Linked DNA regions of Homo sapiens. The protein of the gene in region 3 purifies or fractionates together with the protein of the main gene of each other region. This does not show direct contact. Each region holds a gene or a part of one and is shown on either strand. Other genes may lie near its edges. The genes, in order: SNX3, TOM1L1, STAT5B, AARS1, DDR1, TPM1 and TPM4.

What was found.
Region 1: the proteins of STAT5B (region 3) and SNX3 purify together in Homo sapiens (affinity purification with mass spectrometry; one large-scale study listed by BioGRID and IntAct). This does not show direct contact.
Region 2: the proteins of STAT5B (region 3) and TOM1L1 fractionate together in Homo sapiens (co-fractionation; one large-scale study listed by BioGRID). This does not show direct contact.
Region 4: the proteins of STAT5B (region 3) and AARS1 fractionate together in Homo sapiens (co-fractionation; one large-scale study listed by BioGRID). This does not show direct contact.
Region 5: the proteins of STAT5B (region 3) and DDR1 purify together in Homo sapiens (pull-down; one large-scale study listed by IntAct). This does not show direct contact.
Region 6: the proteins of STAT5B (region 3) and TPM1 purify together in Homo sapiens (affinity purification with mass spectrometry; one large-scale study listed by BioGRID and IntAct). This does not show direct contact.
Region 7: the proteins of STAT5B (region 3) and TPM4 purify together in Homo sapiens (affinity purification with mass spectrometry; one large-scale study listed by BioGRID and IntAct). This does not show direct contact.

The regions. Positions count from the first base shown.
Region 1 is NC_000006.12:108,216,041-108,219,540, forward strand, and holds part of SNX3 (sorting nexin-3), read right to left. Parts: intron 1-3,500. UniProt on the Homo sapiens protein: Phosphoinositide-binding protein required for multivesicular body formation. Specifically binds phosphatidylinositol 3-phosphate (PtdIns(P3)).
Region 2 is NC_000017.11:54,907,352-54,910,851, reverse strand, and holds part of TOM1L1 (TOM1-like protein 1), read right to left. Parts: intron 1-3,500. UniProt on the Homo sapiens protein: Probable adapter protein involved in signaling pathways. Interacts with the SH2 and SH3 domains of various signaling proteins when it is phosphorylated. May promote FYN activation, possibly by disrupting intramolecular SH3-dependent interactions.
Region 3 is NC_000017.11:42,201,035-42,203,391, reverse strand, and holds part of STAT5B (signal transducer and activator of transcription 5B), read left to right. Parts: intron 1-583; coding exon 584-635; intron 636-944; coding exon 945-1,052; intron 1,053-1,527; coding exon 1,528-1,654; 3' UTR 1,655-2,357. UniProt on the Homo sapiens protein: Carries out a dual function: signal transduction and activation of transcription. Mediates cellular responses to the cytokine KITLG/SCF and other growth factors. Binds to the GAS element and activates PRL-induced transcription.
Region 4 is NC_000016.10:70,262,007-70,265,506, forward strand, and holds part of AARS1 (alanine--tRNA ligase, cytoplasmic), read right to left. Parts: intron 3,097-3,500; coding exon 2,952-3,096; intron 519-2,951; coding exon 340-518; intron 1-339. UniProt on the Homo sapiens protein: Catalyzes the attachment of alanine to tRNA(Ala) in a two-step reaction: alanine is first activated by ATP to form Ala-AMP and then transferred to the acceptor end of tRNA(Ala). Also edits incorrectly charged tRNA(Ala) via its editing domain.
Region 5 is NC_000006.12:30,891,019-30,894,518, reverse strand, and holds part of DDR1 (epithelial discoidin domain-containing receptor 1 isoform 2 precursor), read right to left. Parts: coding exon 3,399-3,500; intron 3,140-3,398; coding exon 3,040-3,139; intron 2,518-3,039; coding exon 2,331-2,517; intron 2,224-2,330; coding exon 1,977-2,223; intron 1,452-1,976; coding exon 1,356-1,451; intron 1,248-1,355; coding exon 1,096-1,247; intron 14-1,095; coding exon 1-13. UniProt on the Homo sapiens protein: Tyrosine kinase that functions as a cell surface receptor for fibrillar collagen and regulates cell attachment to the extracellular matrix, remodeling of the extracellular matrix, cell migration, differentiation, survival and cell proliferation.
Region 6 is NC_000015.10:63,049,247-63,052,746, forward strand, and holds part of TPM1 (tropomyosin alpha-1 chain), read left to right. Parts: exon of another isoform or gene 1-141; intron 142-800; exon of another isoform or gene 801-895; intron 896-3,500. UniProt on the Homo sapiens protein: Binds to actin filaments in muscle and non-muscle cells. Plays a central role, in association with the troponin complex, in the calcium dependent regulation of vertebrate striated muscle contraction.
Region 7 is NC_000019.10:16,096,995-16,100,494, reverse strand, and holds part of TPM4 (tropomyosin alpha-4 chain), read right to left. Parts: intron 1-3,500. UniProt on the Homo sapiens protein: Binds to actin filaments in muscle and non-muscle cells. Plays a central role, in association with the troponin complex, in the calcium dependent regulation of vertebrate striated muscle contraction.

The DNA.
Region 1 (3,500 bases), on a different chromosome or scaffold from region 3:
AGAATCAGATAAGTTTTGTACTGGGGGGCTTTCTTGTGCATTCTTTTCTTTCTTGAGATGGGGTCTTGCTCTGTCACCCAGGCTGGAGTTCCGTGGTGCGATCATGGCTCGCTGCAGCCTCCCCCAGACTCAGATGATCCTCCTGCATCAGCCTCCCAAATAGCCGGGACACTACAGGTACATAGCGTGCTACCACGCCTGGCTAATTTTTCTATTTTTTGTGGAGATGGTGTTTCACTGTGTTGGCCAGGCTGGCATTCTTTTCTTTAGCAGCATCCCTAGCCTCTGCCCACTAGACAACATAGCACCCCCAGCTGAGACAATAAAAAATGTCTCTAGACAGTGTCAAACGTCTCCTGGGGGATAAAACTGCCTTTGGTGGAAAACCATCAATCTATCATACTAATGTCTTCAAATCAAGACCCCTGTCTTAGGCTTCTTGTGGTTATTTTAAGAAAAACTGGGCATACAACAGAAGCTCAAATATCTGTTAAATGACCAACCACTTAGCTGGATCCTTACTTTAAACGCAAACAGAGAAATGTGTAAGCAAACAATCAGAACAAGGAGAAATATATATAGTAAACTGATACATATTTTTCTTTTCACCAATAATACAAATTACACATATTCAAAAAAATTAAAACTTTAAACCCTTGATATAGTTTCTACAACGAGTTGTTTATCCTCAAACAAAATTCAATAGGGTAAAAAAGGGAAAGAGCAACTCGACTTCATATAGATTAACAAAAAACAAAATAAAAACAAAAAAACCAAATGTCCAAATAAACTTTATAATCCCTTCCTAGATTTACTCTCCTCAGATGACCAATGATGAAGATATCTATGGATTTGTCTCCGTAAATTTATGCTAGCATTCTCAGATCTCACCCCCATGTTAACATCTGTTTAGTTGAGAGTTAAAATCTGCAGGGACCTTCTATAACTGAGAAACAAAGGAATGCTAACCATTACGTTCCAGTAGAATGGCTATCTGGTGGGCAGGGAAAAATATCTGTATCTACACAATTATTATTTAAAAAAAGAATTCTGGAACCACTGTGTTAAATAAATGACCACCATTAATTCAGGGTAGAATTTAGCATGAAACTTAAGAAAAGGATAGCTCAAGGATGTCAGTTAAAGAAAGAAGGAAAATGATAAAAAATGTAACAATATATATATAATTAAATATATATAAATTTCATATATAATGGGAATTTAAGAAAAGGATAGCTATGCATTATCCTCTGTAGAGATACACTCTTCCTAACATATTCAAACTAGTCATTCAAATGGATGGGGAGGTGGTAGGCAACAGGATTAATGATCTATAAAAATCATAAATGGCTCATCCAGCTAAGATTCTCTTCTACATCAAATTATTTTTGCTGAAGCAGTCTGAAAACACCTAACTGGAATTCTAACACCAGGTTGGGTGCGGTAGCTCACATATGTAATCCCAGCACTTCAGGAGGCCAAGGTGGGTGGATCACCTGAGGTCAGAAGTTCAAGACCAGCCTGGCCAACATGGTGAAACCCTGTGTCTACTAAAAATACAAAAAATTAGCCGGGCATGGTGGTGCATGCTTGTAACCCCTTTACTCAGGAGGCTGAGGAGAATTGCTTGAGCCTGGGAGGCAGAGATTGCAGTAAGCCGGGACTGCACCACGGTACTCCAGCCTGGGCGAGAGCTAGACACCGTCTCAAAAAAAAAAAAAAAAAATTCTAATACTAATTAAAAAGTCATGAATGCAAAGATATGTGCGTGCATGTGGGGTGAGAAATAGGAGAATATCTGGTGAGCACAATATATTGAAAGCTAAAGCAAACTAGAATAAAAGCTAAAAGATCTGACCATAATACATGTCAGCTAATTTCTAGCTTAGTTTAACAGATCTTAGTTAAAAGTACTAATATACCACAAAATAACTTGATTACATTGTTCTTTGCAATACTGTAATACGAGTAAAACTTTCACATGGATTTAACTCTCAATATATTTAACTGGTCTAATGTTAAATGTGAAGTATTGTGCTTCAAAGGACAACATCAAGAAAGTGAAAAACAACCCAGAGACTGGGAGATATGTGCAAATTATGTATCTGATAGGGAACTCTAAGAGTCTTATATATTCTCGACATAACTCTATAATAAAAAGATGAACCCATTGAAAAAGGCAAAAGCTCTCAATAAAGATGTCTCCAAAGAAGATACATAAATGACCAGTAAGTATATGAAAAGAAAATCAACATTAGTGGCCATTAGAGAAATAAAAATCAAAACCACAATGCAATACCCCTTCACAAACAGTAGGATAGCTATAATAAAGAAGACAGGCAATTGGTAAGGATGTGGAGAAAAGTAGAACCTCACATTGCTGGTAAGAATGTAAAATTACACAGCTGCTTTGGAAAAACGGTCTGCCAATTCCTCAAAAGGTTAAAAAGAGTTATGACCCAGCAATGTACTGGTAGGTATATACTGAAAAGAAATGAAAACACATGCAGACAGAAACCTATGCACAAATGTTCACAGCAGCACTACCAATAACAGCCAAAAAGTAGAACAAAATGTCCACCAAATAAGTGTATAAATAAGATGTGGTATAAGCATACAATAGGATATTATTTAGGAATAAAAAGAAATGAAGTAATTGATGCATGTTAGAAAAGCATGAACTGTGAAAACATGTTAAGTGAAAGAAGCCAGACACAAAAGATCACATATTGTGGGCTTCCATTTACATATGCCCAGAATGGGCAAATCCACAGAGAAAGGAGACTAGCAGGTGGTTGCCATAGGCTGAGTGAGGAAGGGTTGGGGAGAAATCAGTGGTGTCTACTAATGGGGACAGGGTTTCTTTTATTGGGTGATAAAAATGCTCTAAAATTGACTAGTGCTCTAAAATAGTGATGGTTGCACAACTCTGTGAACATATTAAAAACCAGTGAATTATACACTTTAAATGGGTGAATTGCATGGTATGTGAATTATATCTCAATAAAGCTGTTACTAAAAACAAAAGCGGTCGGGCGGGGTGGCTCACGCCTGTAATCCCAGCACTTCGGGAGGCCAAGGCGGGCGGATCACAAGGCCAGGAGATCGAGACCGTCTTGCTAACACGGTGAAACCCCGTCTCTACTAAAAATTTTTAAAAAATGAATAAATAAATTTACAAAAAAAAGCAAAATATACACTCAGCAAACGTTTATTAAACATTTCCAGTGTGCCACATGGTATGTCAAGCAAAGCCCAAAGCCTATGTATCAAGACACTTCTCAGCTAGGTGTGGTGGCTCATGCCTGTAATCCCAGCACTTTGGGAGGCCAAGGCAGGAGGATTACTTGAGGCCAGGAATTCAAGACCAGCCTGGGCAACATAGTGAAGCCTCATCCTTACAAAAAATTTTTTAAAATTAGCTGGACATGGTGGCTCATGCCTGTAGTCCCAGCTACTTGGGAGGCTGAGGCAGGAAAATCACTTGAGACCAGGAGTTG
Region 2 (3,500 bases), about 13 Mb from region 3:
GTTATACTTAAAACGCTATAGTTTTAAGGCACTGTGACCAAGAAATAATCAGAAAATATAGAAACATGCAGCTGTGTGAAACACAGGGAAAACCTTTAAGGCAAAGAAAAATAAAAACAAAATCCAAAACATATTAAGATGAATCTGTACAGTTTGGTGAGACAAAGTTGGAAAGTTGAATAACATGCCATTTAGCTTGATGGATTATTATAATGAATTTTTAACGGGCGAAATCCTAAAAGGAAAAGTGCTTCTAGCTCAATGTGAGTTTACAGAAATATTTCACCTAACTAGTTGTACCGTCTTACGCAAATACCTAGCCTCCAAGTCTCACTCTCCCTAGGTGTATTTCTTGCTAAATAATTCGCAAACCAATTTTTGTTTGTTTGTTTGTTTGAGACAGGGTCTCACTCTGTCACCTAGGCTGGAGTGCAGTGGCGCAATCTCGACTCACTGCAACCTCTGCCTCTCCGGTTCAGGTGATTCTCATGCCTCGGCTTCCCAAGTAGCTGAGATTACAGGCGTGCACCACCATGCCCAGCTAATTTTTGTATTTTTAGTAGACATGGGTTTTCGCCATACTGGCCAGGCTGGTCTCAAACTCCTAGCCTCAAGTGATCCATCCACCCCGGCCTCCCAAAGTGCTGGGATTACAGGCATGAACCACTGCACCTGGCCCTCACAAACTAATTTTTATCTTTGGTGCCACAAGATTTTATGATAATGGGTAAGACTCCCAGGAGGTACATGCACAAAATCAAAGAGTCAACATGAAATGCTAAAAATGTGAACATCTGGAGATTAGCAGTCATGCCTTTTGTGTTTTCCCATTAGAATCAAGAATGTCAGGACTAATTAATTCTACATCACCTCCTCTATTATGTCACCAGAACCTCTTTCACCCTCCAACTCACTCAGATAAGTAATAAAACCTACGTGGCAAATTGGAAAAATTAAATATGTTTTCACATATTCTGAAATTGAACTTTGATGCAAATGTGTTCAGATAACCCATCTTTCGAAATAAGACAAATAAGAATCCATAATCTGAGGTGGGATTGAAAACTCAGGAGCCAAGGAACAAAGACTGAAGTGGGTGACTCCAGGCTTCACTGATCTTTTGGGCTTGGCTGGGCAAATCACTTATCCTAAGCTTCAGTGTCCTTATCTGCAAAATGGACATAATATCTCCCTCTAGAGACTTGTTGTAAGGCCCAAATGAAACATAACAAAGAGCCTGCCACAAAGCAGGACCTCAATACATGGCAACTATTTAGATCATCTTCCATGGAGAACTTCCTAGCAGGAGTGAATGTGATGATTAGCTGATCTAAGTATTTTAAGAGAGGGCTGGAAGAAAAAGAGGTAGTTGACAGTTTTCTCACTGTAAATTTCCAAACCAGGCAGAGTGACAACAACCAGGTTTCAGGGCCATCAGAGCTACACCTGGGCCGTGAATAGTGCCTACACCAAGGTGACTACCCCACTCTATGATGACACCCCTAGGACAGGCCTCAGTCTTCTCACTCCCTCCAACTGCAACAAGCTCCTGGGGGGACAACCACATGGTTTTGTTTTGCTTTGTTTTGCTTGGATACAGAGTCTCGCTTTGTCACCCAGGCTGGAGTGCACTGGCACAATCTAGGCTCACTGCAACCTCCGCCTCCTGGGTTCAAGCAATTTTCCTGCCTCAGCCTCCCGAGTAGCTGGGATTACAGTCACATGCCACCATGACTGGCTAGTTTTTGTATTTTCAGTAGAGACAGGGTATTACCATGTTGCCCAGGCTGGTCTCTAACTCCTGACCTGAAGTGATCTACCCTCCTCGGCCTCCCAAAGTGCTGGGATTACAGGCATGAGCCACTGCACCCAGCCTGATATTTTGTTTCACTGGTAAATTTGCCAAAGGAGAATAAACCAAGCTTTTTCTTCATTATTATTTTCAACCACATTTTACACATTTTATGAAACCCCTGAAGCTCACTGCTTAGGGGGTGCTCCACAAAGGCCTATTAACTAATTGATTCTCAGGAACCTGTTCGACCACTTTCCATTTGACAATAATAGTAGCCTCTTGCTGAGATTTATCACAATTGACTCATTCAAGAACAGAATACTCTCTGGCTCAGAGTAATAAAGCCTGGTAACAAAATTCTGCTGAAACACAAAACAAAACTGCTCCACCGACTGATGGTAGGAAATCATAGTACAGTCAGGTTCCGTCAAAGCCCAATCAAGGCTAACACGTCCACGGAGAACTCAACATGACAGATAACATAAAGAATATTTATAATCGAATTTGACAGGCTCTCATCACTTTACATTAATAAAATGGAAATGTCATATATAGGGATTACATTTTAAAGAGTTTACTGGTAAACTTATAATTGCTTTTGACAGACATAGGTGACTCCTGTGACTAATTTCCCTCATAATTAAATTTGGCTTACGTGAATATTAAAGTCAGTTCTGAGGCCTTAAGCATACCTCTGCAAGGCAGTGAGTAGTCTGAGACGAGGTGACTAGACCATTAAATACACAACTCAGGGAAATCAGCATGAAGATATGAAGAGTCAAAGGCCTATTTAAAGAAAATCCAAGGAAAAGCCAGATGTTTTTCCTGACTTTAATGTACTGTGACCCCAAGGATGAAGGTGTATTCTGACCTATGACTTGTGACTCTTGCCTGTTTTTAGGCACAGGCTTTAGATTGGACAGAAACCACGAGGTAAGGGAGCTACAGATCTGAGGTGGAACAGATAATGGGAAAGGCAGCGAGCAGATTAGACTACCTGATGAGAAGGAAGAGTGGAAGCCCAAAGAGAAACAGAGGGCCAGAGGCACAACACTCTGGAATAGCCCAACTTCCTCAAGGAGGGTCCCTGGTCCGTCGTCACAGGGAGGGAACCATGATGGAAGAAGATATGGAGGTGGGATTAAGAAGCAACCACTGAAACATCAAGTAGGCTGGGCACAATGGAGAAAGCGGCAAATTGTTATGAATGGTGAACACCTGTAAAAAGCAAAATAATAATACCCCATGCTGAAATAGAGAAGGGGGCATAAATTCATCTTCTGCCCTTCTCTTCCTTACTCAATTCTCCTAACCTTTGGCACCCTTGAGATATCCCAGATATACTATATTTGAGGGTACATCTACACATCTTTCTACTCCGGTTCTACAGTACCTTCCATTAGCCCTTGAGTCTTCCCGGATACTAGGAGAGACGGGATTAGGTGTGTGTATGAGGGTGGGGTGCTTAATCATTAATCCAGTCAACATCTGATATACCTGGCCCTGTACTACACAGGAAGAAACTAAAGACATAAAGGAAACACAGTAGCCTACTCTTTTAAGAGGCTTGATTCGTTCTTAGAAACAAAGTGGCATGAGGCAAGGGCATGGAATTTAGAATCTGAGGACTGGGATCAAATCTTGCCTATGCTATGTAATAGCCATTTTCATCTCGGAAATAAATCTGTTTCTGTTAGTCTCAATT
Region 3 (2,357 bases):
GACTTAGATTTGTATTGAAGTACATAGTTTCCATGGTTTGAAGAATTTATTGAAACATCCAAGCCAATTTGGAAGATATCTTGAATTTCAGTTTTAGTGCTGACCTTCTCCTCTACCAGGTCTTCCTAACAGATTGAAATATTAAATGCTTGGCCAAGTGCGGTGGCTTATGCCTGTAATCCCAGCACCTTGGGGGGCCAAGGTGGGCAGATAACTTGAGGTCAGGAGTTAGAAAACAGCCTGGGTGACATGGTGAAACCCCATCTCTACTAAAAATACAAAAATTAGCCAAAGTGTGGTGGTGTACCTGTAATCCAGCTACTCAGGAGGCTGAGGCATCGGAATCATTTGAACCTGGGAGGCGGAGGCTGCAGTGAGCCGAGATTGCACCACCGTACTCCAGCCTGGATGAGAGAGTGAGACTGTTTCAAAAAACAAAACAAAAAAATATTAAGTGCTTGTGTCATATCCTTAGATAAGTTAGGTGGTTGTGTTCTGTCCTAAGAAAAGATGTGATTCATAAGGAAGATCACATTTTTGTTTCACTTGAGAACTTTGATTTACTACATTCTTCCCTTGGCAGCTAAAGCTGTTGATGGATACGTGAAGCCACAGATCAAGCAAGTGGTCCCTGAGTAAGTGTCCAGGTGGCTGTGGCTCTCCTTCTGCCTCTTTCCTCCTCCCCCAGACCCTGCCTCCCATCCTTATCCTGGCCCAGCTTTCCGCTCCCCCGGGGAAACTGTCTCAGCCCTGGGGAAGGACCTGGGCTTGGTGATGCTATGCCAGTACCTGAGGCCCCACTCCTGTAGCTGGAGCCCCAGGGCCGAGTGGGGCACTTTGTCCTTCTACACCCTGAGAAAGACAAAGATACCCCTTGGTCCCCTCCCCAAGTCAGCTGCCCTGGCCTCCCTGGCAGCTGAAGCTCTGTTCTCTTCCTTCTGCAGGTTTGTGAACGCATCTGCAGATGCCGGGGGCGGCAGCGCCACGTACATGGACCAGGCCCCCTCCCCAGCTGTGTGTCCCCAGGCTCACTATAACATGTACCCACAGAAGTAGGTGGCATTCTTGTGGGGGTCCACAGGGGAGGAACTGGGGGCTTGGCCCCAGGCTGGACCCCTGGAGGGCTGGGGTCAAAGGAATCCAGAGCTCCTCTAGGTCTGAGACCACACAGCCCTGGCCCGGGCTCTGGCCTTTGGGAGGGAGAGATTTGACCAGAAGTGATTGGTGGTTTAGAGTCGGGTTGGGCAAATGTCATCTGTTCCCCTCTCTCAATATGGAGATTTTTCTTGCTCTAAGGACTGAGTGGAGTTGTGATGTGTCTGGACAGCCGGTGTGAGAGGTAACAGGGGAGGGTATTTCAGTCTGAGTTGCTGTACAGCCAGCTGTTTGAATGGTTGTTCTTTTCCCATGAAGCCCCAGGCTGAGGGCATAGGCTGGCTCAGACTGCTCCCCTGGTGGCCTGTGGGGCTTGGGGTGGTCTCTGGCAGGCTTTCCCCTTCCCTTCATCCCTCTTCTTTCCCTCCCAAGCCCTGACTCAGTCCTTGACACCGATGGGGACTTCGATCTGGAGGACACAATGGACGTAGCGCGGCGTGTGGAGGAGCTCCTGGGCCGGCCAATGGACAGTCAGTGGATCCCGCACGCACAATCGTGACCCCGCGACCTCTCCATCTTCAGCTTCTTCATCTTCACCAGAGGAATCACTCTTGTGGATGTTTTAATTCCATGAATCGCTTCTCTTTTGAAACAATACTCATAATGTGAAGTGTTAATACTAGTTGTGACCTTAGTGTTTCTGTGCATGGTGGCACCAGCGAAGGGAGTGCGAGTATGTGTTTGTGTGTGTGTGTGTGTGTGTGTGTGTGTGCGTGTTTGCACGTTATGGTGTTTCTCCCTCTCACTGTCTGAGAGTTTAGTTGTAGCAGAGGGGCCACAGACAGAAGCTGTGGTGGTTTTTACTTTGTGCAAAAAGGCAGTGAGTTTCGTGAAGCCTGGAAGTTGGCCATGTGTCTTAAGAGTGGCTGGACTTTGACATGTGGCTGTTTGAATAAGAGAAGGACAAAGGGAGGAGAAAGCACATGTGCTCCAGTGAGTCTTCGTCACTCTGTCTGCCAAGCAATTGATATATAACCGTGATTGTCTCTGCTTTTCTTCTGAAATGTAGATAACTGCTTTTTGACAAAGAGAGCCTTCCCTCTCCCCCACCCCTGTGTTCTTGGGTAGGAATGGGAAAAGGGGCAACCTACAAAGATTGTTGGGGCAAGGGAAGTCACAAGCTTTCGGATGGGCGGTGGCTTTTCACAAAACATTTAGCTCATCTTATTCTCTCTTTGTCCTCTCTCCCCTCCTGCCCGCCC
Region 4 (3,500 bases), on a different chromosome or scaffold from region 3:
AAGCCTAGGGAGACAAAGTAACTCATTCAGCAGCGGCAGAGCTCGAGGCTGAGTTTTCTACAAGGACATCTCCCCTTCAGAGAGCTGCCTCTCCTTTTTAATGTGCAAAGCTTGTAGGAAACTTGTACCCTGGCTGCAAAAATACTCCTACGAGGGTACCCGATGGCCAGGAAAGCAACAGGTACAAGCAACAGCTCCCTCGGCTTCAGAAATACCATGGAACCCAACCCAAAGGTGTGTCAGGTCTGCTCCCAAGGCCTGGAGCACTGTGGGGCAAAAGCAGCTCCCCGGCTCCACGCCTGGCCCTCCTCGGCTAACAAGGAAGAACTGTTGGCTCACATCTTCACTGCTGTCATCCACCTTCACCAGGTAGCCTTCGTCATAGATCTGGCCTCCTTGCTCAGCATAGAAACAGGTCTTGTCCAGCACCACTCCACACTCCTGGCCTGTGGACACCTCTTCCACGAACATCTTCTCCCTGCGCAGAGCCATCACCGTAGCCACTGTGTTCTCAAATACTGCTCAAGGGAAATGCATAGAAAGGGGACAGTGGGGTCAATGACCTTTTCACTCCTTCTTGGCTGACTTTTGCTGGATTCTCTTTCGCAAACTCTTCTTAGCTCCTAATTGTCCAATTGTATTTTGGAAGCAAACTCATTAGACAATATGAAAGGGCTTCGCGGCCGGGCGCGGTGGCTCCCCCTATAATCCCAGCACTTTGGGAGGTCGAGGCAGGCGGATCACGGGGTCAAGAGATCGAGACCATCCTGGCTAACACGCTGAAACCCTGTCTCTACCAAAAATACAAAACATTAGCCGGGTGTGGTGGCGGGCACCTGTAGTCCCAGCTACTCAGGAGGCTGAGGCAGAAGAATGGCGTGAACCCAGGAGGCGGAGCTTGCAGTGAGCCGAGATTGTGCCACTCCACTCCAGCCTGGGTGACAAAGCAAGACTCGGTCTCAAAAAAAAAAAAAAAAAAAAAAAAAAAAAAACAACAACAACAAAGGGCTTCGCATGCTGGCTTTCCATCAAAGAATGCAACACTCTGTCGGGTGACCAACTGTCCCAATTTTTAGGACTGAGGGGTTTCCTGGGATGCAGGCTTCAGTGTTAAAACTGGGACAATGGGTTACCCTAACTCTGAGCTACTGAACAGAAACTTGGTGCATCAGATTAGTAGATCTTTAAGAGTAGTAATAAATTCCCTAGTCCAAGGTCAACTCACAAAGAATGTACTCATTTTGTAGGCTTGCTTGAATAGATTTAGGTGTAAGATTGTTCTCAGCCGGGCACGGTGGCTCACACCTGTCATCCTGGCACTTTGTGAGGCTGAGACGGGTGGATAACCTGAGCTCAGCAGTTTGAGACCAGCCTGGCCAACACGGTGAAACCCCGTGTCCACTACAATACAAAAATTAGCCAGGTGTGGTGGCACATGCCTGTAATCCCAGTTAATTGGGAGGCTGAGGCAGGAGAATCACTTCAAGCTGGGAGGCAGAAGTTGCAGTGAGCCGAGAATGCGCCACTGCACTCCAGCCTGGGTGACAGAGCGAAACTCCATCTCAAAAAAAAAAAAAAGATTGTTCTCTACCAGGGCAAAAAAGCTGCAAAAACATGTATTGCCAATTTATTTTTATGTTTTTTTTGAGACAGGGTCTCACTCTGTAGCCCAGGCTGGAGTGCAGTGGCACAAATATGGCTGACTGCAGCCTCTCAATCTCCCAGGCTCAAGTGATCCTCCTGCCTCAGCCCCACAAATAGCTGGGACTACAGGCATGCGCCACCACACCTAGCTAATTTTTGTATTTCTGGTAGAGACAGGGTTTCGCCATGTTGCCCAGACTGGTCTCAAACACCAGAGCTCAACTGATCAGCCCACCCTGGCATCCCGAAGTGCTGGGATTACAGGCATGAGTCATTGCACTGGCTTTGTTTCTTAACTTTAGAATACTATTATCCGGTCGGGCGAGATGGCTTACGCCTGTAATCCCAGCACTTTGGGAGGCCAAGGCAGGCAGATCATGAGGTCAGGAGTTTGAGACCTGCCTGGCAAACATGGTGAAACCCTGTCTCTACTAAAAACACAAAAATCAGCCGGGTGTGGTGGTGCGTGGCTGTAATCCCAGCTACTTGGGAGGCTGAGGCCGGAGAATCGCTTGAACCCAGGAGGTGGAGGTTGCAGTGAGCCGAGATCACACTATTGCACTCCAGCCTGGGCAACAGAGGGAGATTCCATCTCAGAAAAAAAAAAGAATGCTATTAGGATAATAGCATTCTAACAGCATTAGGATAATAGAATCCTAATAGCATTCTTTTTCTTTTTCCCCGAGACGGAATTTCACTCTTGTTGTCCAGGCTGGAGTGCAATGGCATGATCTTGGCTCACTGCAACCTCTGCCTCCCAGGTTCAGGCGATTCTCCTGCCTCAGCCTCCCGAGTAGCTGGGATTACAGGGGCACGCCACCACGCCCGGCTAATTTCCGTATTTTTAGTAGAGATGGGGTTTCATCATGTTGGTCAGGCTGGTCTCAAACTCCTGACCTTAGGTGATCCACCTGCCCCGGCCTCCCAAAGTGTTGGGATTACAGGTGTGAGGCACAGCGCCAGGCCCCTAATAGCATTCTGATAGTCACTGTGGATTGTATCAATGTCAATTGCCCAGTTTCCTGCATGATGTTACAATTAGGGGAAACTGGATAAAAGGGTGTGAGACCCTTCCTACAAATTTTTTTTTTTTACAACTTCCTGTGACAATAATTATTTCAAAATAGAGTTAAGAAAACCTCCAGCCAAGGGTGCCTATGTGTATAAAAGTGCATAGCGTGACTGTACGGCACTCCAGGAGAGGCTGTCAGCAGTCTGCTGGAGAGCTAATCTTGAGAAACAATCTTTCAAATACCCCCCAGATACGGGGCAGAATGCTCAGATGTGGAAGGAGCACAGCAACATACCATAGCTACCACTGGAGTCCAAATGGTAATTGTACTTTGGGGAATCATCTGTGACCTCCAGACCCCGTGCCCGGAGCTCTTCGATAGCGTAAATGTCCAGCATAATGAGGTCTTCCCCACCAGCTCCCTTGCCCTGTGATTTCAGCTGTCAGCAAGAGAAACAAGCATAAGTTACCGTAAAGTAGGAGAAAAGGGACTCCAAAGGACTGGAACTTGCTAAACTATGCCCAGCATAAACTGCCAGAACAGGGTTTTTCAATCCTGGCACTACTGACATTTGGGGCCAGATCATTCTCTGTTGTGGAAACTTCTCTTGCAGTGTGGGATGCTGAGGGGCACCCTGGCCTCTACCAAGTACGTGACAGCAGGATCTGCCCCTAGTTGTGAAAATCAAAAATGTCTTCAGACATTATCGCCAATTACTCCCTGGAAGGCAGACTCGCCCCCACTTGAGAACCACTGATCTAGGGGAAAAAGCACTTCAAAGACTTTAATGGAAGGAAACTCATGCTCAGTCTGCAGCCAAGTGGTGCTGGGTTGGAAGGTGTT
Region 5 (3,500 bases), on a different chromosome or scaffold from region 3:
CCCTCCGTTCAGCCTTGTCATAGGGATGGGAGGCATCACCCGTGTTGCTCAGCACACACGGCCTGGCCCTCTGCTGTGTCCATCCCTGCGTTCCCTCCCTCAGCCCTCACAAGAGCCCTACAGCTGTGGATACTATCAGCACCATCTTACAGGCAGAGAAAGTGAAGCTCAAGAGCATGGAGGTAACTTCCCTGTCCCACAATGAGATTCTAACCCTCATCTGCCCAGTCCATAACTATCAACCGTTTTTTTTTTGTTTGTTTGTTTTTTTGAGATGGAATTTTGCTCTTGTCGCCCAGGCTGAAGTGAAATGGCATGATCTCAGCTCACTGCAACCTTCGCCTCCCAGGTTCAAGAGATTCATGCCTCAGCCTCCTGAGTAGCTGGGATTACAGGCATCAGCCACCATGCCTGGCTAATTTTGTATTCTTAGTAGAGATGGGATTTCACCATGTTGGTCAGGCTGGTCTCGAACTCTTGACCTCAGGTGATCCTCCCGCCTCGGCCTCCCAAAGTGCTAGGATTACAGGCATGAGCCACCGTGTCCAGTCATCAACCTTAATGTACATTACTGCCACTGGACTCCAGCCGGAAGACGTGGCTTGGGGTGTGCCAGACGTCTTCCCTTTGCCCCTCCAACCCCACTCTCTGCCTGTCTCTACCCTGCTTCTGCCCCAAGGCTGACCAGTGTACACTGCACCAACAGGCCTGGTTTGGGTTAGCCAGAGAGGAGCCCAGCAGGAGTTTGGGGCAGAAAGTGAGGTCAGGGCATCTATTCTCCCAGGCCCTCCCTGAGGGGTAGATACGGGCCAGCTGCATCCCAGGACCAAAGTCTACTGCCCCTGTCAAGGTGCCCTCTCCACAGGCTCTCTCCTCTGGGTCGTGGTATTTGCTCCTCTCCGCTGAGCAGACCCAGAGCTGGGGAGCAGCCCTCCCTGTGAGCCCCATACCCTCTTTGACATGGTGTAAGTGGTCTCTTTACTAAGCCCTCCTCTTGGGATGCTAGTGGGCTGTGCCCTGCAGGTCCCACTGGACGCTGGCTCGTGCTGGGGCCTGGCCTCCCCCCGCCACTCCACATGCCACGGCTGTGCCCACCTTGCTGAGGAGCCTGCGCCAGTGCAGCCGCCAGAGCATGAGGGCAATGATGAGCAGCAGGAGCAGGATGATGGCCACCAGGCAGCCGATGAGGATGGCGGTCGGGCTCCCCTCGGCCTTGGCCACGGGCTGCTGGCCTCTGGGCTCCAGCTCTGGTGGAGGCAGCAGGGTCAGCACCACAGGAGGGTCCCACCCTAGCCGAGGGGGAGGCCCAGGGAGAAGGGTGCAGAGGGTCCACACGCCCACCCAAGATTGCTCACCCAAGCTGCTGAAGTTGGTGGGAGGTGGGCCAGGCGGCCACCAGGGGGCTGGCGGGAAGGTGCCTCCCAGTGCCGGAGAGGAATTGTTCACCACATCTGGGGAGAAGGAACAAAAAGAAAGGAGGGAGGTAAATGAGGAGGAGACCCAAGGGAGGCAGAGGCAGTGGACTGTTGTGCAAAGGAGCAGAAGCATGGGTGATTCTCAATAGGCAACCACTGACCAGTGGGGGCTGGGGGAGCAGGGTCCTGGAACACCCAGCTGTGGTGGGTGTTAACCCTATAGTTGCTGGATTGTGGGGAGGTGGAGGACAGGTATCTGGAGGCTTAGAGAAGAGGCTATTTCTCAACTAATACAGAAGTATTTCAATATTTTAACAACCAGTACTGTCATACTGGCTCAATAATAGTCACGGGCAAGGGGCTTACAAAGGAAAGATGGATACGCAGAGAACAAGAGGCAGAAAGGGGCTCAAGTTATTTGGGGCACCCCTAATTGAGAAGTTTCGGTGGGTGATGGGTAGATATAATGCAAGGAATGAGTATTTTAGGGACACTGCAGGGTTAGGAATGAAATCAGTTGTCAATTTCAGGGACTGGAGACTGGGCTACTCCAGGGCTTACCAGAGATGAAGGAGATTTCGCTGAAGAGTAACCAGGGCCCCGCAAAGAGGAAGCGGCACTGCAGAAAGCGAGCCACACGGCCGCCAAGGGGCACTGAGACAGCCCGGGCTCTGGGGTCCCCCAGGTTGCCCCCTAGGTTGTGGCGCATGGGCTCCCCCTCCCAGGCCATGGCAGGGCCACGCCGGAAGCGACATTCCACCCCGCCAGGCAGACGGGCTCCCAGCGTGTGCATGTTGTTACAGTGGACCTGGGGGGAAGGGAAGAGGGCACAGGGTCAAGGCTAGGAGTGGTGGGGGCACCCCAACGGCACCCTGCATGGCTTCAGAGCCCTCCTCGAGAGCCGGACTCACTCACCTGCATAGCCTGGAAGGCCCTCAGCCGGTCAAACTCAAACTCCATCTCCACATAGCCACTGGAGAAGCTGTGGTTGCTCCATCCCACATAGTCATAGCCTGGCCAGACCCGCAGCTCCTGACTCTTCCTAAAGTCATCCAGCCCCACCACACCATCTGCCAGCTGGCCCAGACCCCCATACTGCAGTCTGGAGAAGAGGGGACCAAGGAAGAGGAGGTTGGAAGGGAAGAGGGTCTTGACATCCAGGCATTCTGCTCCGCCACCCTCCGGCACAGTGGCATGGCCAGCCTGGCTCCCATCCACTAGTCCCATTCCCATCCCACCTCACACTCATGCAGCTGGCCCTTCTCCTCTCTCCACCCCACCCCAGCACTACAGGTACCTTGCAGGTCACATCCAGCACAAAGGCACCACCTCTAAGGGGCACCATTTCAATCTATGATGTGTATATTTATTGCAGCAATTTCCAACAATGTGTGTTAGCAAAGGGGTGCCTTTTTCATACAGTGTCATACGGGCTAGTGGTCACCCTAGTGCTACCCTTTGAGGCCCCACCTAACCCATCCCTCTTCTCAGCTCTTCCATCTCACTCCCCACCCTACTTACCAGCCCCCCTACACACACACACTCTCACACACACACACACACACACACACACACAGTCCTCCCTCCCACCCCAAACTCCATATCCTGCAGGGGCCTTTCTTACCCGCCCACGGTATGTCCGTCATAGGTGGAGTCGTTGAGGTACACGGCCTCAGATAAATACATTGTCTGCCCCACAGGGGCGGTGTAAGACAGGAGTCCATCTGGGGCAGGGTGAGAGGATGGGGGTCAGAGGCACTAAGGCTCCATCCCCCATCCCTGCATCAGGCCTGGGCAGGTTTCAGGTCCCTTCTTGTATCTCTCCACTGGCTCATTGGCATGGAGGAGACAATGCTGGCTAGCCCCCTCCTCAGAGTGACAGCTTCCCAGCAGGAGAAGGGATCCTGGATGCCCATTCTCCACACTCCCCACCCTCCAGTCCCCTGCTCAGGAAACAGATTCCCAGGAAGCTGAGCCACTCACCCCTCCAGAGGCAGCCATAGAGCTCTACCCGCAGACAGACGCTCATGACCCGGTCAGCCCGGGGGTAGAAGCGAACCAGTCGGGCAACCATGGGGGGCCCAA
Region 6 (3,500 bases), on a different chromosome or scaffold from region 3:
ACAGCTTGACAGCGCCGCGTTCTGCTGGAAGAGCTAAACTATAGTGCAAAACCCTTAACCCGTCCCTTTTTTCAGCAGTCCTCCTCCCCTTTTCTCTCATACAGATAGATAATGCTTTGTTACCAAGTCTTGGAAAAAGTTGGCGAAATGTCAACAGTTATTGGGTGTATTCTCTTGCGGGCTTCCCCTCCCCCTTGTTAAATGTAATACCTGGCTTCCTTCCTTTCTTCTAAGGCAAATGTATCCAGCAAACACGAACAGGATTTCAGAGGTAGTCTAGTATTGGATATTTGTCGATTTTGTGTGTGTGTGTTTTTAATGAAGATACTGAAACAAACACCTTGGGAGTTTTATGACAATTGATAGTATGATGTCCTGCTGTGCTTAATATACGGGGTTGTTCTGAGTTGAGTAAATCGTTCTAGTTAAGTGTTTGTAAATGGCTGTATGGCTGGCCACAGAAACTTCAAGACCTGAAATGGTCCTCTTCAGAGGAAAGCTCAACTAGAGAAAGTTTCAGATAAAATACAAGCAGGAATAAGGAAATTAATAGGCAAAAGATAATTCTCAGTATTTGCTTTATAGGACGAGTCAGCAAAAGTCCTGTGGATATCCCTGAACTTGGCTGGGTGGTAAACTAATTCCGACTCCCTTACTCGCTAGTAGCTGTCCTTGAACCATTAGAACTATATAGAATATGATGGATAAAAACAAGAACTTTGGACCCAGACTGTCAGAACTTGAATCCTGTCTCCACTACTTACTAGCAGTGGGCAAGTTACTTAATCTCTGTGTTTCAGTTCCCTGTGTGTAAAGTGTGGATAGTAACAGCATCTACCTGTCGGTTAAAGGAGTTACTATGTAAAGACAGTACACTGATGCTTGGCGCAAAAGGGTAAGTGCTGTGTGCCCGCTGTCATTAAAACTGCACAGCCCTGGCAGCCCAGTGCTCCTTCACCTTCAGTTCCCCACCCAGCAAGAGGTCTTAAAGATGGCCTGCTCATTTCATGACATCATAAAACACTTCATTTACTGCTTTTAATCAACATTTGTTGGGGCGGGGGGCTTGAATGAAGAGGAAGTGGGCGGGCTGGTAGGCATGTTTGATGGGTTAAAGTGGTATCAGTGGTAGAAGTCTGAGGTCTCCTCACCCTGCTAAGAAAGAGTATGTGTGACCCTATGCAGGAGAGCCTTGTATTGGCTCCTGGCCTAGTGATTGATGTTAGACACAAAAGATAAATTTTATGAAGGGCACATTATTACTTTTATTCTTACCTTCTCTTTTGCACGTCGTTTTTATAACAGAACTCTTCCTGTGCCAGTTGGCTAAAGATAGTACTTTCGTTCTTTTCACGGCTTTATATCAAAAGTAGTTTAAGTAGTTTCAATTTTTTTAAGTAATCTTTGCAAACAATCTACCTGGGTGATTGATTGAACACAGAACCTTTTAAGACAGCAACTTGAAGACTGGATCAGACCATTGAAGAGAGACTTTCAGGCTGCAAGTTGTTCCTAACTTCTGAAATTGGAACTTAAATGTAGCTGACTTAGGTATTTAGATGTAGCTTGGGCTGTGAGTTAAGCTAGCAGTAACAGTTTCTTTTGGCAGCAAAGATAAAGGTTTAGTGACAAAACCATGAGCCACTGCAAAAAATATTTGACCAGAGAGTTGGCCTAAATTCAAATACTCAGACTGTAATTAATAGGCCCTATTAAACCAGCCCTTACCTTGGAAAAAGCAGCCATCCCTTACTTCCTCCTAGTCTGTGTTTCCAAGGTGTGTGGATCCTTCAAAATGTTGGAATGAGGCTACTTTGCTTGACATGATTGATTCCAGATCTTGTGACCCACTAGGGTTATGTTTGCTTTTTTTCATTATTTAAAGAAAAAGGCAGGATGAATCTTCCTTTCTGAGTAGTATCCAGCAAACAAGGAGACAGGGAGTTGTGGCCAGAAGGTTCTTAATTAGTAACATGATTAAATCATGGGAAATAACCAATTTACAAAAATTCCCAGCACTTTCCCTCTTTACACTTGGTAAGTATTTCCGGGATAGGAAAACCGAGGGTGCATTTTGTGCTTGCATTGGCACTCCCAGAGTGGCTGTTAACTGGAATGTATACTCTCGATTTCCGCTTTCATATGTAGGCAAGGCAGAGGCACTACAATGCCTTGTTCATGTCTGTTCTCCCTCATTATACAAATATGCTTCATAAATTATGGGCTTTGGCACACACAGGAGGTTGTGTTTATCTGTTATCCATGGGAGTGCCCCTTAATGTCATCAGTGTTTTTTTTTTTCCCCCCTTTCCTTACCATATAAGGGCAGAAGTTTAGCTTGGCTGTGGTCACTTGGCCTTACACAGCAAGTTGGGTGAAACCTTCTTCGTATAACTACAGTTTGCATGAAATAAAAAGACCTGACCTTTGATCATCCCAAGTTCCACTCCAGTTCAGTCAGGACTTTGGAAACATATTCCAGAGGATTGATTTCTAGATTATAATATTCTCCCACCAGTATTTTTTCTTAATAACCTTAACTGGAATACTTTTTTAAAAAGTAAAAGTCACTGCCATTTTTAATTTTCTGTTGTTGTATTGGCTAAAACATCTGGATTTCATGAAAATCTAGGCCTCATAAAAGTTGTTTTTTTTTTTTTTTTTCAAATCTGATTTGGGATAATATTATACTATGGTGGGGTGGGCATGCCCTTGATTTCTATATAGTACCATGTTGGGGTGGGGGAATGGGGTGCATGCCCTTAGAGGAGGGTCATATGCATTGTAAGGCACCTCAAGTACAGAGCACCAGGAAGTTACTTAAAAACATCTGCAGGAGGACATTGGTAGCCTTTACTAATACAGCAGTCTCTTTTTTGAGTAGTTCATTGTTAGAACACAATAGCACTTTTGAAATAAAAGAAACTAGCATCCCAGATTGAAAGACTTCACTGGCAGTCAGCACATGGGCTGCTGTTAGAAGAAAGCTAACTTGGCTGGGTGCAGTGGCTCATGCCTGTAATCCCAACACTTTGGGCGGCCGAGACGGGTGGATCACCTGAGGTCAGCAGTTCGAGACTAGCCTAGCCAACATGGCAAAATCCCATCTCTACTAAAAATACAGCAATTAGCCGAGCATGGTGTCACGTGCCTGTAATCCTAGCTACTGGGGAGGCTGAGGCAGGAGAATCGCTTGAACCCGGGAGGTGGAGGTTGCAGTGAGCCGAGGTCATGCCACTGCACTCCAGCCTGGGAGACAGAGCTAGACTCCATCTCAAAGAAAAAAGAAGAAGAAGAAGAAAGCTAACTCAGTACACTAAGAGTGATTTACATGCCTGCAAATAATTTGTGTCTGGGGTCTTGACCCTCCCCAAATGCCTTGTTATTTATATCTCTGCTTTTAGATAACAGATGGTCATGTGTCTATGGGCTTGTACCGGCAGAGGCAACAGCAGGTCCTTAAGACTCCCCAGGTGCCATGATGAAAAGAACCTTAGAAA
Region 7 (3,500 bases), on a different chromosome or scaffold from region 3:
ACTAAGGAACAAGCACCAAATTTGGGAGTCACAGTTGTAAGATAAAATGCAGGGCGCCCAGTTAAATTGAATTTCAGATAAACCACAAATAATATTTTAGTGTAAGTATATCCCAAATGTTGCATGAGATGTACTTATGCAAGAGATATACTTATGATTAAAAAATTATTCATTGCTTATCTGAAACTCAGATTTAAGTTGGTGTCCTGTATTTTTCCTTGTGAACTCTGGTAACCCTTGAGTCAGAATACCTGAACTTAAGCTCCAGTTGTATCACTTAAGTAAGCATCTAACCTTCCTAGGTCTGTTTTCCCCGTCTGTCAAATGGGGGTAACGATATCAATGCGTGGTGTGGGGGTTATGATGAGGAATAAAGGAGAAATACTTCAGAACCTATGACGTGCTGCTACATGAAGATTTCAGTCCTAGATATGTGTGACTTAATATAAATTTCCACCCAAGTGCTAGTTAATTAGCCCCTGAGCCTTTGATAGTTAAATCTAAAATCCTGTAACCCATCTTTCCTTCGGAGCTTCTGGGAATGGCTGTTTAAATTATACACATAATTGTGTAACTGTCTATGAATCCAGGAGAACGGAGACAAACCCCAGGTAAATGCGAAATTTAAGCCATTCTACAGGCATGTTATTAAGTAACTGAGCTGATGAAACAATTTAAATTAAAAAAGAAAGAGAGAGAGAAAAAAGACGCCATTTAGAGCTATGCGTGACAGAGCACGAGAGAGAACTTAGTTTGCAGTAAGTGATGGCTGATAAGGGACAAGGCCAAGACTCATTAAAATGCTGGGGGAAAGCAAAATGCCTCATAAAATGTGATATCATCAGCCTGGAAATTTACAGAAAGAAAAAAATGACTGCAGAAGATGGCAGCCTTTCTTATTTATTTATTTTTAAACAGGGTCTTGCTCTGTTGCCCAGGCTGGAGTGCAGTGGCATGATCATAGCTCACTGCAGCCTTGACCTCCTGGGCTCAAGTGATCCTTCTACCTCAGCCTCCCAAGTAGCTGGGACTACAAGTGCGTGCCACTACACCCAGCCAATTCTTGTATTTTTAGTAGAGATGGGGTTTCGCCATGTTGCCCAAGCTGGTCTCATGCAATCCACCCACCTCGGCCTCCCAAAGTGCTGGGATTACTGGCATGAGACACCATGGATCCTTGATGTAAGGAGTTCGAGACCAGCCTGGCCAACATGGCGAAACCCCATCTCTACTTAAAAATACAAAAAATTAGCCGGGTGTGGTGGCGCACACCTGTAATCCCAGCTACACAGGAGGCTGAGGCAGGAGAATCACTTGAACCCGGGAGGCGGACACTGCAGTGAGCCGAGATTGCGTCACTGCCCTCCAGCCTGGGTGACAGAGTGGGACTCCATCACACACACACACACACACACACACACACAGAGTCAAGTGACTATGACCTGGGAGGATTCTATCAGACAGATCAGTGACCTGGGCCTATCCAGTCTGGGTGAATAGATGTTAACTGAATGCTGACTATGTTGGACGAGCCAGTTTCTCCATTATCTCATTTAATCCTCATAACAGAGATATCACCTTTATTTTGCAGAAAACCTAAGCAGCTTGTTCACGTTGGCATGGTTAAAGTAGTAGAGCTAGGATTTTAAATCCTGGTCTCTTTATTTATTATTTTATTAAAAAATTTTTTAAAAATAAAATATTATTATGAATAATTTTAGAGATGGGGTCTTGCCATATTGCCCAGATTGGTCTCAAACTCCTGAGCTCAAGTGATCCGCCTGCCTTGGCCTCCCAAAGTGCTGGGATTACAAGTGTGAGCCACTGCGCCAGGCCTTAAACCCTGGTCTCTTGACTACAAATCCTGACTTCGCTTCATCTTGTCACTCAGATGCTTTAGCATCTATTTTGTTATTAGGTCTGAGATAAAATGACTTTCCCTGAAAGTGTTAACTGCCCTTGAGAATCACGACAAGGCTCACAGACTATCAACAGATAGTGTAGACCTCCATAGTGCTAATCTCTTTTCTTTTCTTTTCTTTTTTTTTGAGGCGGAGTCTCACTCTGTCGCCCAGGCTGGAGTACAAAGGTTCGACCTTGGCTCACAGCAAGCTCCGCCTCCCAGGTTCAAGTGATTGATTTTCCCACCTCAGCCTCCCCAGTAGCTGGGATTACAGGCCCCCATGACCATGCCCGGCTAATTTTTGCATTTTTAGTAGAGACAGAGTTTCACCATGTTGACCAGGTTGGTCCTGAACTTCTGACCTCAAGTGACCTGCCTGCCTTGGCCTCCCAAAGTGTTGGGATTACAGGCGTGAGCCACCGTGCCCGGCCATAGCACTAATCTCTGAAATTCCACTTATGTGCTTAGTTAGGTAGAATAACTGGATAGACAGGCTGCATAGTTACTTCAAAGGGTGGAGTCCAGAAATGCCTGGAGAAATTCCAGGGACAAACACACAGACTCCAAACAAAAACCAGCCCCCTACACAGTCTGTAATCTTTCCAAGGGCATATATATGGCAATGTGTGAGGGGAATGGTTTTTGCAGAAGTTCAGGATGGACGGCAGTTAGGAGCAGGGAGAGGCTGAGGGTGGAAAGGTGGAGGTGGTTTAGGGGAGGTGCATTTTGGAGGAATGGATGAATAGAGAGAGTAATGGGGACAGAGCTTCCCACCTGGACAAAAAAATAGGATGAGGAATAACAATGGATACCGAAAATTCAGGATCTAGTTGGAGATTTTCATGCCATTTCCAGGTTCAAGGGGTAGTCTGGAAGATGTGGCTTGAACATCTAAATGTCAATTATCTGTGATAATTTGAGGTGGTAGTGGTGGTAGGATGCAGGGGAGAACCAGATGCACTATTTGAAATTTTGGGACAAATTGGTATGTTTTTGATCATTAGAAAAGCATAGCTTGGGCCAGGTGCAGTGGCTCACACCTGTAATCCCAGCACTTTGGGAGGCCGAGGCGGGTGGATCACCTGAGGTCAGGGGTTCAAAACCAGCCTGGCCAACATGGTGAAACCCTGTCTCTACTAAAAATACAAAATTAGCCAGGCATGGTGGCGCATGCCTGTAGTCCCAGCTACTTGGGAGGCTGAGGCAGGAGAATTGCTTGAACCCGTGAGGCAGAGGTTGCAGTGAGCAGAGATGGCGCCACTGCACTCCAGCGTGGGCAACAAGAGCGAAACTCCGTCTCAAAAAGAAAGAAGAAAAAAAAAAGCAAAGCATAGCCTGGGCCGGGCAAAGTGGCTCACGCCTGTAATCCCAGCATTTTTGGAAGCTGAGGTGGGCGGATCAGTTGAGGCCAGGAGTTTCAGACCAGCCTAGCTAACATGGTGAAACCCCATCTCTACTGAAAGTACAAAAATTAGCTGAGTGTGGTGGTCCGCGACTGTAATCCCAGCTACTCGGGAGGCTGAGGCATGAGAATCACTTGAACCCAGGAGGCGGAGGTTGCAGTGAGCCAAGATGGCGCCACTGCACTCCAGCCCGG